Linked DNA regions of Homo sapiens: region 2 is linked to region 1. Evidence: fine-mapped expression QTL. A gene starts in region 1. The other region holds a variant in brackets. All regions are shown on one strand. Distances are between the middles of the regions. Region 1 holds the start of PINLYP (phospholipase A2 inhibitor and LY6/PLAUR domain containing). Region 2 holds the start of SRRM5 (serine/arginine repetitive matrix 5).

What was found.
Region 2: its variant is fine-mapped to the expression of PINLYP in thyroid (GTEx, PIP 0.98).

Annotation. Positions count from the first base shown.
Region 1 is chr19:43,571,996-43,580,316 of GRCh38, forward strand. It overlaps PINLYP (phospholipase A2 inhibitor and LY6/PLAUR domain containing), which reads left to right and starts at 3,806. Exons shown (of 6, transcript NM_001193621.3): 1 at 3,806-4,924; 2 at 5,120-5,266; 3 at 6,595-6,711. The coding sequence starts at 5,197. XRCC1 (X-ray repair cross complementing 1) reads right to left here and starts at 3,532. Exons shown (of 17, transcript NM_006297.3): 1 at 3,413-3,532; 2 at 2,915-3,007. The coding sequence starts at 3,463. RefSeq lists a silencer at 3,486-3,645 and enhancers at 3,746-3,905, 3,906-4,432, 4,433-4,958, 8,220-8,279.
Region 2 is chr19:43,606,793-43,615,107 of GRCh38, forward strand. It overlaps ZNF428 (zinc finger protein 428), which reads right to left. Exons shown (of 3, transcript NM_182498.4): 2 at 7,437-7,642; 3 at 432-1,315. The coding sequence starts at 7,512. The coding sequence ends at 825. It overlaps SRRM5 (serine/arginine repetitive matrix 5), which reads left to right and starts at 5,296. Exons shown (of 1, transcript NM_001145641.2): 1 at 5,296-7,706. The coding sequence starts at 5,330. The coding sequence ends at 7,477. The variant C/G (reference allele first, on the strand shown) is at 3,388.

The DNA.
Region 1 (8,321 bases):
CCTGGATGCCACCCCTAGAATGTCCCAAAGTCACATCAAACCTGGACATCCCAACTGAAACACATCACCTCCCCAAGCTGCTCCCTCTGGGGTTTACCATGTTGGTGACCGCTGCAATACTCCCTCAGTCTCTCCCAGGCCAGAGACAGGTTCTGTCTCTTCTGCCTCCAGTCACTCTGTTTCCACAGCAACTGGGGTAACAGAATGAAATGTGATTTCCCTGGAGTCACTTGATCATAAGAGAGCCCAGTGGAATCATCACCCACTAAGTAATAAAAACACAAATCCCTCCCTCTACACAAACACCTACATGTTGACAGAGCACTTGTGCAGACATTATGTCACCGAATTTTCACAACTCCGGGCTTGGATGTCATTATTCCCAATGGACACATGAGAAAACAGGTTAGAGAAATGAAACAATTTTCTTGAGGTCACCGATTAAGAGGAAGAGCTGGGGGCTTGAATCTAGATCTCAAGACTAAAACTGTCAGCAATCTGTATCTATCACAGTTTAAAAGACTGAGGTCAGGTGCAGTGGCTCATGCCTGTAATCCCAACATTTTGGGAGGCCAAGGTGGGTGGATCACTTAAATTAGCATTTGGTGCTCATTTGCCTTGAACTCCTGAGGTCAGGAGTTCAAGACCAGCCTAGCCAACATGGCAAAACTCGGTCTCTATTATAAATACAAAAATTAGCCAGGCATGTAAATTCCAACTACTCAGAAGGCTGAGGCATGAGAATCATTTGAACCTGGGAAGTGGAGGCCATTAGTTGACAGGCACTAAACACTGACATCAATTGGGGTGGACCAGATGATGTTACAGTAACAAAGGAGTCCCTAATCTCAGTGGTTTAAAACAACCAAGTTGTATTAACTTACACTGTAATAATGCTGTGTAACAAATCATCCTAAAACTGAGATCTTTTCTTTTTTTTTTTTTTTTTTTTTTTGAGATACAGTCTCACTCTGTCTCACAGGCCGGAGTGCAGTGAAACCATCACAGTTCACTGCAGCTTCAACCTTATGGGCTCAATCAATCCTCCCCGCTCAGCCTCCCTGGTAGCTGGGACTACAGGCATACGCCACCAAGCCCAGCTATTTTTTATAATTTTTCGTAGAGATAGGGTTTCCCCATGTTACCCAGGCTGGTCTCAAACTCCTGGGTTCAAGCGATTCACCCACCTCGACCTCCCAACATGAAAACTGAGACTTATACCAACAAGCATTCTTATAAGAATTTGTGGGATGGCTGCTTTGGCTGCAGTTTGGGAGGATTCAGGTCTCTTCCATGAGATTCCACAGTTTTCTGGGATTAGCAGTAACCTGGCAAATGTTCTCATGGCATATTATGGGAGCACAAAAGCCAAGTGCATTTAAGGCCCTTGCTGAAGTTAGATGTGCTGAAATTCCATTAAGTAAATCATATGGTCAAACTCATCAATGGAGCAGGGAAATATACTCCCCCTCCAGTGGGAGGGAGAGGAGTGGATATTTGCTGAATGACTGCCCATTCACAAAAGGTTAATTTTTCCGTCACCCTAGCACTATCCACAGAGTGTTCTGCTCCTTATAGTCATAAAGCAGCCCCCAGGCCAGGAACAATGGTTCATGCCTGTCATCCGAGCACTTTGGGAGGCTGAAGCAGGAGGAACGCTTGAGCCCAGGAGTTTGAGACCAGCCTGGCAACATGGTGGAAACCCCATCTCTAAAAAAATACAAAAAAAACTAGCCAGGCATGGTGGTGCACACCTGCAGTCCCAGCTACTCAGGAGGCTGAGGTGGGAGGATCGCTTGAGCCCAGGAGGTAGAGGCTGCAGTGAGCCAAGCCAAGATCATGCCACTGCACTACAGCCTGGGAACAGAGTGAGACTCTGTCTCAACAGATAAATAAAAGATTGACTGTCAGGCAAATTGTATAACTTCTTTGGGCCTCAGTTTCCTCATCTGTAAAAGTGGGGATAACAGAGCCTGCCTCTTGGGGTTTTTTATGAGGACTCAATGAGCTAATCCATGTGAGTGAGGTGTGTAGAGCAGCGACTGACAGGTAACGTTGAATAATGCCAGCTCTCATTATTATTATTTTATTTTTTATATTTTGGGGGTCTCACTCTGGTGCCCAGGCTGGAGTGCAGTGGCACAATCTCAGCTCACTGCAGCCTCCATCTCCTGGGCTCAAGCAATTCTCTCACCTCAGACTCGCCAGTAGCTGGGATTGCAGGTGCACACCACCATACTCAGCTAATCTATAAAATTTTGGTAGAGATGACATCTTACTGTATTGCCCAGGCTGGTCTCAAACTCCTGGGCTCATGCAATACTCCAGCTTCGGCCTCCCAAAGTGATGGGATTACAGGTGTGAACCACCATACCTGGCTATTATTCTTTAAAAAAAATTATTTATTTTAATAAAAATAGAGACAGGGTCTTGATATGTTGCCCAGGCTGGTCTGGAACTCCTGAGCTCAAGCAATCCTCCCATCTCAGGCTCTGAAAGTGCTGGGTTTACAGGCATGAGCCACGGCATCCGGCCAGTTTCCCCTTCTTTAAAGTGGAGTTGATTGGCTTAGACGACCTTCCTGGACACCTTCCAGCCCTGAGCCCACTGGCTGCAGGAGGCAGAGTACGTGGCAATGATTCATTTTGTTCCAGCTGAGGAAACTGGAACCCAGAAAGTAGATGCCACCTGCCCAGGACCACACACTGATTCCTGTGGTCATCCTGGACTTAATCCTTGGGTCTCCTTTCCTCTCTGCTGAGGGGCACAGGGATTATGCTGCCCATTTTCCGAGTAAGGAAGCTGAGGCCCAGCAAAGAAAGTGACTAAACCCACTGCCAGTTGGCTCAGGAGCAGAATCTGGAACCCCGGACTCCAGACTCCTAGTGAGGAGGAGGTGGGGTGGCAGGATCACCTGTAGGACCACAGAGATGGTCTTCTCGCCTGCCTTGGCTGCCCGCCATTTTCGGTAAGTGTCTGCCTTGAGAAGATTTTCTGCACAGTGAGTCTGGAAACAACAGTGGGAGAGGAGAATTAGGGCACAGAGATGACAGCTAGGCCTCCAGCTCTCAGATGATTCCTTTGAGTCCTCCCAAGGCCTCTACGACCCCCAGATTTAAGCTCTCCCGTTAATCCCCCGACACTCTGCCTGGAGTTTCCCCTACAACACTTTCCCGTGGAAGTTCACCTATGGGCTCTCCAAGAAAGCTTCCCTATTCCTCCTTTTCTCTCCGGAAGTTCCCTAGACGCCGGAACGTCCCTAATTCAACATCTCTCCACAATTCACTTTTAGCCTCCTGGAAATCCCCCCATGACTCTCCTTAGACTTCCAAGAGAACCCCAAAAGCTCTTTTAAGAGCTATCCTCATTAATTCCCTCACGTCTTCCAACCTCCCCCATGCAGGTCCCTCACCGAGTCCTGGCTGCTGCAGGACACGACATGGCGGAGGCGGATCTCCGGCATGTCAACGTCGTGGGCTTCGCCTGGCCAGAAGGATGAGGTAGAGTATGGGGTCCGAGGGGCAGGGAGAGTGGGAGGGGGCGGGGTGCGCCCTGCGCTGGCTAAAGTGCGCAAGCGCGCGAGGCTCGGGCCTTTCAAACCCCGGCGCGCCGGCGCCGGCGTCGACACTGCGCAAGCCCAGTCGCGCCTCTCCAGAGCGGGAAGAGCGCTGCGTTCCTTAGCAACGAGCGTTTCCTCCAGCCCCGCCTCCCTCCGCCACACACAACCCCGCTCTAGCCTCGCCTCCCAATGACGTCCGAACCCTGCTTTCTGGGAGCCTAGCAACAGAAGCGACCTCCGGGATTGGTGTCTGGAAGAAATTCGCCTTTCTCATTGCACGATGGAGTTACCGCCCACACTGAAGCCGAGAAAGCAAATCTTTTTGCTGTATTATTATTTATTTTATTTTTTAAAAATTTTTTGTTGAGACAGGGTCTTGCTCTCTCACCCAGGATGGAGTGCAGTGGCACGATCTCGGCTTTCTGCAACCCCTGTCTCCTGGGGCCAAGGGATCCTCCCACTTCAGCCTCCTAAGTAGCTGGGATTACACGCACGCGCCACCACATTCGGCTAATTTTTGTATTTTTTGTGGAGACATGGGGTGAGAGGGCGGCGGGTCTTGCCATGTTGCCCAGACTGGTCTCGAACTCCTCAGCTCAAGCGATCCACCTGCCTCGGCCTCTCAAAGTGCTGGAACTACAGGCGTGAGCGACTGCGCTGGGCTAGGACAGCAAATCTGAGTGAATTTTCGTAGTTTCGTAGGGAACCTGGATTCTACGCAACAGGATCTCTTCAAATGGCTCAGGCGGCTGCACTCTTCTCTCTGTCCCCTTGCCACACACACACACACGCACATATACATACATACGCGCGCGCGCACGCGCGAAAAAAATTAGCAGATCTCTTTCAGCCTTATGCCTGAGGCCAAAAGAGAAGGGTTCTGCGTCCTAAATATAACACAAAGCATGTGCCCAACCCCCACCACACACACACACACACACCCCTATCCTGGAGTTCTTCCACAAAAGCCTCAGTTTCCCAATATGTGGACTGTGGGCATCTGTCTTTTACTACGCCCGCCTATGACTGCCGACAGACATCCCTCTGTTCATTCGGTGCCTTGGAGACCCAAGGGTGCAGCCCTGGGTGGGGTCGCAGCTGGAGACAGCCCAAACACACAAGGAGTGTGAGCCGAGCACATGAAGAGAGGGGAAGGGAGACAAGGCACCCCGCACCCGCAGGACCAGCCTGGACATGCTGGGTGCTCCAAGGTGGGGCCCTACCCACACTGGGTGCTTCCTTGGGAGGAGAGGGGAAGAGAGAGAAGGAGAGGGAATCCCAGTTCTTGCAGCCACTGGGAATCAAGAGGCCCAACTCCGTCTTGGTCTTCAAGCAAACAAACAAACAACAATGGGCCGTGGGAAGGTGAGAAAACAGGGTGGTGACTTTCTGGGTTCTAATAGAAGAGGGGGATGGAAGCCCAGACTCCTGGGGTCTCCATGGAGGTGGGGGGCTGGGCACAAGATGCCCAGGTCACTTTTGGATTCTGGTTCTGCCTTCCCAACCCGGAGGCCACAGAGGACTGCCCTGGGTTCTGACCTCAGCTATTTCTCCCCGTAGGGTGAATGTGGGTCCAGACCCACCCCTCCTCAGCTTCCTATAAAAGCTGGGGACCAGGTACTGCTGATACACACACCATGAGGCTCTCCAGGAGACCAGAGACCTTTCTGCTGGCCTTTGTGTTGCTCTGCACCCTCCTGGGTCTTGGTAAGTGACAAGGGACCTGAACTGTCTCTGGGACCTCAGGAAGAGAGAGGTCCCAGATTGAGAGAGAGAGAGATATAGAGAGAGAAAGAGCCTTCAGCAAGTCCTCAAGGTGAACGGGGAGGCATTCTGGAAATTCAGATTCATGGAAGAGGCCAAGGGTAAAGGAAGAGAAAGCCTGGGGGTCCCAGAGAAGAAAAGCTCCTGTGATTGGATCCCTGAGAGAGGGGCTTGGTGGGCTCTGAATCCTCCATCCTCCAGGAAGGATCCCAAACACATCTCAATTCTAGGAAATCAGATGAGAGCATGGCTGGAAAGGGAAATCTTTAAAAATATAATTAAAAAAAAAAAAAGAGGGAGAAGGCCAGGTGCGGTGGCTCATGCCTGTAACCCCAGCACTTTAAGAGGCCGAGGCAGGTGGATCACTTGAGGTCAGGAGTTCAAGACCAGCCTGGCCAACATGGTGAAACCCCGTCTTTACTAAAAATACAAAAAAAGTTAGCTGAGCTTGGTGGTGGGCGCCTGTAATCCTAGCTACTTGGGAGGCTGAGGTGAGAGGATTGCTTGAAACTGGGAGGCAAAGGTTGCAGTGAGCCAAGATCGTGCCACTGCACTCCCCAGCCTGGGTGACAGAGCAAAACTCCATCTCAAAAAAAATACATTAATATCATATGATATATTTTTTTAAAAGAGGTAGAGAGATTTCCTTTCTCCTTAGACTAAGAAGTTCAGGCCCCAGCCCCCTCCTCCCCTGCACACAGGAGTCCAAGTAAGCCTCACTTTCCCCAGGACCCAGGTTTCTGGGCCCCTAGCTGTCCCCTCTCTCAGAACCAAGAAGTTCAAGTCCTCTGCCCTCCTGGTCCTCACTCTCCCTCCTTGACCTGGGATGCAGACCCTAGCCTCAGGGCCCCCTGCCTGAGCTCCTGCTGTCTACAAGACCTACATGGCACCTTCAAGGAGGAGAATCCCACATTCAAGAACCAGCTGGACCTGAAGTTTCACAAAAGTCCATGGAAACCTCCATCACGACCCCTCCCTGCCCCTGAGCTTTCTCAGCGGACCCTGGCATCCAAAATCCCCAGCCATGTAATTAGGCAAACAGGCTTCATGGTGGAGTCGCTTCCCGCCCCTGGAAGCAGCTTTGCTGGCATCACCACTGCTTCTTCGTCCAACTCTGGACAGTTCCTTGGGCAGTGGTCAACATCCCGCCCATGAAAAACCAGGGAGCTGCTGGTCCCTCCTCTCTCAGGACACAAAAGTCCTAAGTCAAAGTCGTGGTCCGAAGACCACACCACCCATGACTACAGCCTCGCCCTCTGTCTACACTGCAGGGTGCCCACTACACTGCGAAATATGTACGGCGGCGGGGAGCAGGTGCCATGGCCAAATGAAGACCTGCAGCAGTGACAAGGACACATGTGTGCTCCTGGTCGGGAAGGCTACTTCAAGTAAGAGGATGTGGCCTGGGACCTGGTGGGGAGGTGGGGTGTACCTTCAGGGTGGAAGAGACTACCATGCTGAGGGGGGATCATCATGGTTCTCAAGACGGGAGCGTGGGAAGAAATCAGTGGAGAGCAGGAAAGAGGGAAAGACCATCATGAGATGGAGGGAACAGAAATAAGTGGTGTGATAGAAATCATTATTGTCACAGAATTCTGAAAATGACACTGTCCTAAAGAGAAGGAAAATGTGGGAGGGGTGAGAGTTAATAGACTTTCTTAGGCAGAAGAGGGGTAAGGAAAGACACTGTGGGGGGCAGAGAAATAGTGAGAGGGGAAGAATCTAACTGGCAGGAGGTGGAAATGGTGGGGAGTGGATAGAGAAGGAAGAGGCTGGGCTGGGGTGGGAAAGTGTAAGTGTAATCAGGGAAGAGGTCATTCCTGACCGAGGGAGGAGAGATGATGGTGGAGTGTTGGAGTGGTGGAAGAGACAGAAAAGGGATCACCCCAAACAGGAGATGGATGATAACCTTGAAGTATGGAGCAAATCATTTTTTTTCTTTTTTGAGACAGAGTCTCGCTCTGTCACCCAGGATGGAGTGCAATGGCGCGATCTCTGCTCACTGCAACCTCCACTTCCCAGGTTCAAGCGATTCTCCTGCCTCAGCCTCCCGAGTAGCTGGAATTACAGGTGCGTGCCACCACACCTGGCTAATTTTTGTATTTTTTAGTAGAGACGGGGTTTCGCCATGTTGGCCAGGCTGGTCTCTAACTCCTGACCTCAAGTGATTCTCCCGCCTCGACCTCCCAAAGTGCTGGGATTACAGGCATGAGCTACCGTGCCTGGCTGAGCAAATCATCGTAAAGAGGAGAAGCAGAGACAGGGAGGGGGAGATGTGGATGAGTAAAATGAAAGGGAGGCCGGGCACGGTGGTTCACGCCTGTAATCCCAGCACTTTGGGAGGTTGAGGTGGGAGGATCGTTTGAGCCCAGGAGTTTGAGACCAGCCTGGACAACAAAAAGAGATCCATCTCTACAGAAAAAAAAAAAAAAAAATAGTTGCGCATGGTGGCACATGCCTGTAGTCCCAGCCACTTGGGAGGCTGAGGCAGGAGGATCACTTGAGCTTAGGAGATCGAGGCTGCAGCGAGCTAAGTGCACACCGCTGCACTCCAGCCTGGGCAACAGAGGGAAACCTGTCTCAGAAAATAAAATGGAAGAGAGAAGATGGGCATGAGTTAAATGAAAGAGACCACCCCAGACCTGAAAAATGATGGAGGAGAAAGGGAGCAATGGAAGAGACCAGTGGGGGACAGAGATGTTTATACAAAGCTGAAAGAGACTTTCAATCACAGGAGGAGAGATGATGAGGCCTGGTGAGGGAATAAAGGCGACTTTGGGTGCAGGGAGAAAACACTGGTCGGGAGAGGCTGTGAAAGGAAAGTGAGATCGAAAATCACCCAGCCAGCGTTGGTGGGTTAAGGAAGGACCTGAAAGGCTTGAAGAGAACCCCCATCCCGGCATAGAAGAGGAAACGCACCCTCGGGAAGGGAGGAGAGAGAGCTGGGGGACCCCTCGATGGAGTGAAGGGGGAACCTGTGAATTGGGTAGGAAGAGAC
Region 2 (8,315 bases), 35 kb after region 1:
CATTTCTATGAGTCAATATATATAAAGCCCTTGGACTGGCACCAGATACCCAGGAAGCGCTGAGAAAGCGTAGCTGTGATTATAATTAAAGTCCTCTTTGTGGAAGTTCCTAGGCTATGTGGCAGAAAGCCCTAGCTGTCCTCCATGAACTGTTTTCTGCTTTCTGGGCGCTTGGCTAGACTGCTTCTCCCAGGTTGTTTTTGCAGTTAGCTGCGGCCACATATCTAATTTCTCAGCAAAGGCGTGTCAATGGAAGCAGTGTGTGCCCCTGGCAGGCCAGGGCTTGTAAGACAACACGTGCACCTCACCAGGCATCCTGTCCTCTTCTGCCAGCAGGACCCAGGCTATGGCCACCCAGTCTGGACCATGGGGGAGACAACAGGCTTAAGGGATGGCCTGGGTCCCCAAATGACTCACCCAGCACCATTTTGTGAGTGAGAAACAAAATTCTATTATTAGAGCCTTTACATTATGGGGTCTGTAAGTAAATACATGGAAACCTCATCGAATACAAGCACGCAGTAAATGTTATCTTTCCCAAAAGACCCCAAGGTTCCCCAAGAAGGAGCCCAGGGGGAATACACACACACACACACACACACAAACACACACACGGGCGGGAATACACACACACACACACACACTCTGAACCAACACACACAGATACAGATTTTGGCTTTTATTCTGGCCATCACACATCTACTTCTAAGACAACACAGACCGGCAGTACCCCATCCCCCATGACCACTGTCACAACCCCAATTTCCTCAGCCCCCTCCTCCCACCCCACCCCTTCTGCCAAGCTCCCCGTATGGGGGCTCTGCCTACACCTCACCCCGGGCATGCAGCATGAAGTGCCCGTGCAGCTCCCCCAGGTTGTCGAAGGAATCCTCACATTCCGTACAGTGGTAGGTTCCCTCCTCCTCCTCTTCCTCCTCCTCCTCCCGCCCAGCTGGTCGGCCCTCCCCAGCCCGAGGTGGTTCCTCCTCTTCCTCCCCGAGGGCCCTGCCTTCAGGGGCTGGTGCTTCCTGGGGGGCTGTAGCAGGGCAGCAGAGCCGGCAGGGTGGGGTTCCCGGTGGGGCCTCCCCAAGGGGTGAGCGGCCACAGAGCTGGCAAGGCTGGGCCGGGGGCTGGGCTGCACGGGGGGCCCGGCGGGATGGGCCACCACGGCCCCCGCCAAGGCGCTGCTTCACCTTGTAGCCAGGATCATATTCAGGATCGTCAGTGGTCTCCTCTTCCTCCTCCTCCTCATCTTCTTCCTCTTCGGAGTCCGGCTCTGAGAGAGTGTATTCTGAATCAGAGGAATGCTCGGGGCCTGGAGGGGGACAGACAGGGGAAGACAGTGGTATCAGAGGAAAGAGGGCTAGGCCAAGCTGTCCCCTCCCTGAATCCCCACATTCAGACTTGCCATAGTATGACAAGGATAGCCTAGACACTACCCTTCCCTTCCCCACAGATGAGTCCCCATGGCACAGAACAAGACTGGCACCCAGTAGATTCCCTGTATCTTTGTGTCAAGCAAATGAATGTCTTCCAAGAACTGCATGGGACAGGACTGGGCACAGTGGCTTATGCCTGTAATCCCAGCACTTTTGGGTGGCCAAGGTGGGAAGATCACTTGAGCCCAGAAGTTTGAGACCAGCCTGGGCAATATAGCAAGACTCCGTCTCTACAAAAAATTAAAAAATTAGCCAGGCCTGGTGATGCATTACCTGTAGTACCAGCTTCTCGGGAGGCTGAGGCGGGAGGATCACTTGAGCCGAGGAGTTCCAGGCTGCATTTGAGCCATGATTGCGCCACTCCCTTCCAGCCTGGGTGACAGAGTGAGACCTCACCACTTAAAAAGAATTTTTTTGGCCGGGCGCGGTAGATTACTCCTGTAATCCTAGCACTTTGGGAGGCCAAGGTGGGCAGATCATGAGGTCAGGAGTTCAAGACAAGCCTGGCCAACATGGTGAAACCTCGTCTCTACTAAAAATACAAAAATTAGCTGGGTGTGGTGGCGGGCGCCTGTAATCCCAGCTACTCGGGAGGCTGAGGCAGGAGAACTGCTTCAACCCAGGAGGCGGAGGTTGCAGTGAGCCGAGATCACACAACTGCACTCCAGCCTGGGTGACAGAGCAAGACTCTGCTGTCTTAGAAAAAAGCAAAAAAAAAAAAAAAAAATTATTTGATTCTTTCGATTGATTGCAAAAGAAAACAAAAACTCCATGGGGAGGTGGGGTGGGAGGCATTTAGGAAGGACAAAGCCGGAGTAGTAAAAACCCACCAGTAACAACAGCATCCTTGCTATTGTAGGAGCCCTGTTCTTATACATTAACTCACTAAATCCTCAACAACCCTTTGAGGGTGGTACTATTACTATCCCCAGTTGATGGATGTGGAAACTGAGGCACAGGGAGGCTAGACGACTCACTCCCCTGTGGTTACACAGCTCTGGCAGGAAAAGCTGAACCTGGGCCATGGCTGACACTGGATCATTTTAGGGAGACAACCATTTGAAAAGGTATTTGTGCAAATTAAAACACATGCATACACACAGATGTACTTTTATATCTGTGGCCATGGAGAGAGAGAGAGAGAGAGTTAGGTGAATTAAAACATTTATTTATAGGTAAGATATATTACTGTGATTTCACAGTTATCAAGGACAGGCCTAGGACAAGTTTAGGTTTAAAGAAAAAGGCCTGTAATCTAGCACTTTGGGAGGCTGAGGTGGGCGGATTGCCTGAACTCAGGAGTTCATGACCCACTCTGGGCAACATGGTGAAACCCCGTCTCTACTAAAAATACAAAATTTAGCCAAGTGTGGGGTGGTGGGTGCCTATAGTCCCAGCTACTCAGGACTCTGAGGCAGGAGAATTGCTCGAACCCGGGAGGCGGAGGTTGCGATGAGCCAATATTGAACCACTGCACTCCAGCCTGGGTGACAGAGCAAGACTCCGTTCCCAAAAAAAAAAAAGAAAAGGGGAAAAATTTATAGTTGATATACGGAAAAGGGCGACATCAGCTGCCATTATGGGGGCGCACACACAGAGTAATGGTTGGGGATGGGGTCCCTGTGACCACGGTGTGGGAAGTACCAGCTTCTTCGGCCTTGGTGGTAGGAGCCTGCCAAAAGCCTCACCTTGTATCCATCCCAGCCCCATTCCTCAGTTTCTCCCAGAACCCAGAGGATCCTGCTACTGCACCCTGTGCTCCGCCCTTGCTCCTGTCATCACAGTGGCCACAGGCTCTTCATACCAGGCTCCTCACCTTCCAACACCCCAGGCCCATACCTGCCTCAGGGTCTTTGCCACCCTTTCTGCCGATGTCACTCTCCATTCCATGTCTCTTCTCAAGTGTCACCTTCTCAGTGACGCCCTGGCCACTCCCCAGCACTCCCTA[C/G]GCCCCTTACTCTGCTTGATTTTTCTCCATCTTCTTTTGAGATAGAGTCTCGCTCTGTCATCCAGGCTGGAGTGCAGTGGCGTGATCTCAGCTCACTGGAAACTCCGCCTCCTGGGTTCAGGCAATTCTTCTGCCTCAGCCTCTCAAGTAACTGGGATTACAGGGGCGCACCAGCATGCCCAGGTAATTTTTGTATTTTTAGTAGAGACGGGGTTTCACCTTGTTGGCCAGGCTGGTCTCAAACTCCTGACCTCAAGTGATCCACTCATCTCAGCCTCCCAAAGTGCTGGGATTATAGGTATGAGCCACCGCAGCCGGCTCATTTTTCTCCATCTTCTGACTCACTGCATTCAACATTTACTTGTGTGTTTGTTTACTGCCTGTCCCCGAGAGCTGGGACTTTGTCTGGTTCACTGCTGTGGCCCCAGCATCTAAAACACTTCCTTTGTGCAAAGAAAGTACTTATGACATATTTATGGCATGGATATCTCTGCATGGAATTTGACAAACCTTTTCTGAGGCTTCACACACACTGTTCCTCCCTCTGGTGGGAATGTCCTGCCCTAGTTTTTCCCACCATCCTTTAGGACCCAGTGGGAGGCCTTCCTCTTTGGTGAGGCCGTCCCAGACCTCCTCATCCCAGGCAGCCAGTCACTTTTTTTACCACCCTCCTGCTGGGTCCCCAGCATCACCAGCCCAGAACAGGTTATAACTCTTTCCTTCTGAACATCCGTCCCTGCAGCTCTCTCCTACTAGTTCCTGCCATTTAACAATCGTTTCCTGAGGCCTTGGTATGGGCTGTTCCCCACTCTATCCACCTGGTGACCCCCTACTCATCCTTCAAGACCCAGCACAAACTCTGTCCTCTGTGAAGCCACCACCCTGAAGCCCCAGGCTCCCAGCCAGGTCTCTCTCCAGCTTCCCCTGCCCCAGCACCTCCTCCTGTTACTGCCCTAGAAGCTGACTGCAGTCAGCTGCCCCCCAGGGTATCTCCCTTATCTGACTGGGAACTCCTCAAGGGCAGGTATGATCTTGGGGTCCGCAGCAGAGGACGTGTGGGTGAGTGGATGATAGTGGCCCCAAGACCCTGATCTCCCTCCCCAAAGCCTTGGCCTCTGCTCCTCGCCCACCTGGTTGACCCGTTCATTTTTTTTTTTTTCGAGAGAGAGTCTCGCTGTCACCCAGGCTGGCGTGCAATGGCGTGATCTTGGCTCACTGCAACCTCCGCCTCCAAGGTTCAAGCGATCCTCCCACCTCAGCCTCCCAAGTAGCTGGGATTACAAGCGTGTGCTATCACACCTGGCTAATTTTTATATTTTTGGTAGAGATGGGGTTTCACCTTGTTGGTTAGGCTGGTCTTGAACTCCTGACCTCAGGTGATCTGCCTGCCTCAGCCTCCCAAAGTGCTGGGATTACAGGTGTGAGCCACCGCGCCCAGCCTGACCCTTTCTTTCTCTACTGGCAAAACTCCTGCTCCTTTTTAAAGCCAAGCTCATGTCACCTCCTCTGTGAAGTCCTCGCTGACTCCCCAAGCGGTCAGTGTCTCTCTCGTATGGGCTCCCCGGCCCCTGCACTGCTCTCCATCACACCCTGACCACTCTGGGCAGTGGCCCCCCTCCCCACCCACTGACTATGGGCTCCTTGAAGGCAGGGCCTGGGTCTGCCCCATCTCTGTGTCCCCAGCAATGCTGGGCATGAGTCAGCCTCAGAAGACATCTGCTGAATGGCTGCAAACCAGAGGAAATATCTCCAGCCTCAGGCTGGGACCCCTCCCCTCTCTCCTCCCACCTCTGACTTCATACCACTCACCCTCCAGAGTCTTCAATGCCCACTATTACTTCACACAGTTGGCCTGTGACAGGCAATCAGGTCATCGTCCACGGCTACCAGGTGTTTCATGTCTACTGTGACTTCCAGGACCACAAGCCCTTTTGCGCCCACCATGTCTTCACCTAAGAGATCTTCAAAGCCCAGTATGTCTCTGGCACCCAGTGGATCCTCCATGCCCACTGCGGATCCCAAGCCTCCTGCCTCCTTGAAGTCCACCAAATCAGCAACACCCAACAGATCCTTAGTGCCCACCAAACCAGCGACATCCCGTAACTCAGTCATGAGCCCAAGCAGTTCCAAGTCCACCAAATCGACCAGTACAAAAAGAGCCCCTTCTAACCGGCCCAGCAGCAGGTCCCGAGTCCGCAGCAAAGCAAGAACACCCAGCAGGGTGAGCACCGACACCAGGACCAGCAAAGCCAGCAAGGCCAGCGACGTGAGATGCCACCAGCGGAGGGGCACACACAGCCGGGGTAGGACACCTGGCAGAAGGGGAAGCCGCAGCTCCAAGAGGTCACCCAGCAGGGCCAGCACTCCTGGCAGGATAAGAACTCATGGTGCCAGACCAGGCATGGCCAGCAGGGTGAGAACTCCCACTTCACAGCAAAAAGGGAGCCGGGGAAAGAGTTACGGCCGGCCTAGAACCAGCAACAGGGAAAGGAGTGACAGCCAGCCTAGAAATCTGAGCAAGAAGAGTTACCGCCCACCAGGAGGCTCAGGTATAGGGAGGAGTTCCGAGCTGGCTGTAACTCCCAGTACAGCCAAGTGTCAAACCCCGACTGGAATTCCCTCCAAGGAGAAGAGTGACAACCCATCTCCATCCTCATCAAGGAAGGTGAAGAGCTACGGTCAGATGATCATCCCCAGTAGGGAAAAGAGTTACAGCCCCACTGAAATGTCCAGCAGGGTCAAGAGTTATAACCAGGCCAGCACCCGCAGCAGGCCGCAAAGTCACAGCCAATCTAGAAGCCCCAGAAGGTCAAGAAGTGGCAGTCAGAAGAGGACGCACAGCAGAGTGAGAAGTCACAGTTGGAAGAGAAACCATAGCAGGGCAAGAAGTCGCACCCGGAAGGGAATTCTGAGCCAGATGGGAAGACACAGCCAGTCTAGAAGCCACAGCAAGGGGAAAAGTCAAAACCAATCTAGAACCCCCAGAAGAGGAAGAAGTCACAACTGGTCTAGAAACCCCAGCAAGGAAAGAAGTCATAGCCATTCCAGAAGCTCCAGCAAAGAGAGAGATCACAGGGGATCTAGCAGCCCCAGGAAGGAGAGTGGTCGCAGTCAATCAGGAAGCCCCAACAAGCAGAGAGATCACAGCCGATCTAGAAGTCCCAACAAGGCGAGAGATCGCAGCCGATCTAGAAGTCCCTACAAGGCGAGAGATCGCAGCCGATCTAGAAGTCCCAACAAGGCGAGAGATTGCAGCCGATCTAGAAGTCCCTACAAGGCGAGAGATCGCAGCCGATCTAGAAGTCCCAACAAGGCAAGAGATCATAGCCGATCTAGAAGTCCCAACAAGGCGAGAGATCGCAGCCGATCTAGAAGCCCCAGCAAGGAAAGAGATCACAGCCAACTTGGAAGCCCCAGCAAAGAGAGAGATCACAGACGATCTAGAAGCCCCAGCAAGGAGAGACAGTGCAGACAATCTAGAAGCTCCAGCAAAGAGAGAGATCACAGACGATCTAGAAGCCCCAGCAAGGAGAGACAGCGCAGACAATCTAGAAGCCCCAACAAGGAGAGAGATCGCAGCCAATCTAGAAGCCCCAGCGAGGAGAGAGAGCACAGACAATCCAGAAGCCCCAGCAAAGAGAGAGATCGCAGACGATGGAGAAGCCCCAGCAAGGAGAGAGAGCGCAGACAATCTAGAAGCTCCAGCGAGGAGAGAGATCACAGCCGATCTAGAAGCCCCAATAAGCAGAGTGGTTACAGTCGACCTAGAGCCTCCAGCAAGGAGAAAGCTCATAGCCGATCTAGAACCCCCAGCAAAGAAGGAAATCATAGCCAATCTAGAACCTCTAGCAAGGAGAGCGACCCCAGTCAATCTACAGTCCCCAGAAGTCCCGACTGGAAGAGATCCCCTACTAGGACAAGCAGTCTCAGTCAGAATAGAACCCCTAGCAAGACAAGCAGCCACTCCCCATCAACATTTCCCAGTGGGGGCCAAACCCTAAGCCAGGATGACAGTCAAGCCGACGCCACCACCTCTAAGGCCACCTTACCTGGGGAAAGGTCTTCATCATCTTCTTCCAAGCTGGCGTAGCCCCCAGTCTCAGCTGGCTCACGGGTCTCTGTCATGACCGGGGGAGGGGACAGGAGACAGGAGCAGAGCAGCAGCTGAGCAGCGTCCCTCCCCGGCCAGCTCTCCACAGCCACACCTCCGGCCACAAGTTCTCTAATACAGGATGTTGGCAGGTAGAGAGGGATGCTGGATAGGGGGAAAGGAAAGACCTGTGATGATTCAATAAATTTTTACATAGCACCCATCCCCACCAAGCCCAACTGTGTGCTCACTGCTGGCATGGGGCACAGAGGACCCCAGCTCTGTCCCTGACTGTCTACAGGGTCTTGACTGCAAGCCCTGCCCCTCTCTAGGTCTTTTTTTTTTTTGAGACAGAGTCTCTCTCTGTTGCCCAGGCTGGAGTGCAGTGGTGTGATCTCAGCTCACTGCAACCTCCACCTCCCAGGCTCAAGCAATTCTCCTACCTCAGCTTCCCGAGTAGCTGGAACTACAAGTGTGCGTCCTCACGCCCGGCTAATTTTGTATTTTTAGTAGAGATGGGGCTTCACCATGTTGGCCAGGCTGGGCTCGAACTCCTGACCTCAGGTGATCCACATGCCTCAACCTCGCAAAGTGCTGGGATTATAGGCATGAGCCACCGCACCCGTCCCCCTCTCTAGGTCTTAATTTCCGCATGTGGGCAACAAGGCTGCCTTCTGGTTCTTATTCAGTGGGGTAGGGAGAGGTGACACTCCAAATATTCAACAGTGGGGACTGGTGTGGGCACCAATCAGAACTGAGAGTGGAGCGGGACGGATACCAGGCCTTAACCCTTTAGTTGCTGGACCATGGGGAGGTCTGGGGTTGGGGAAGTGTTATG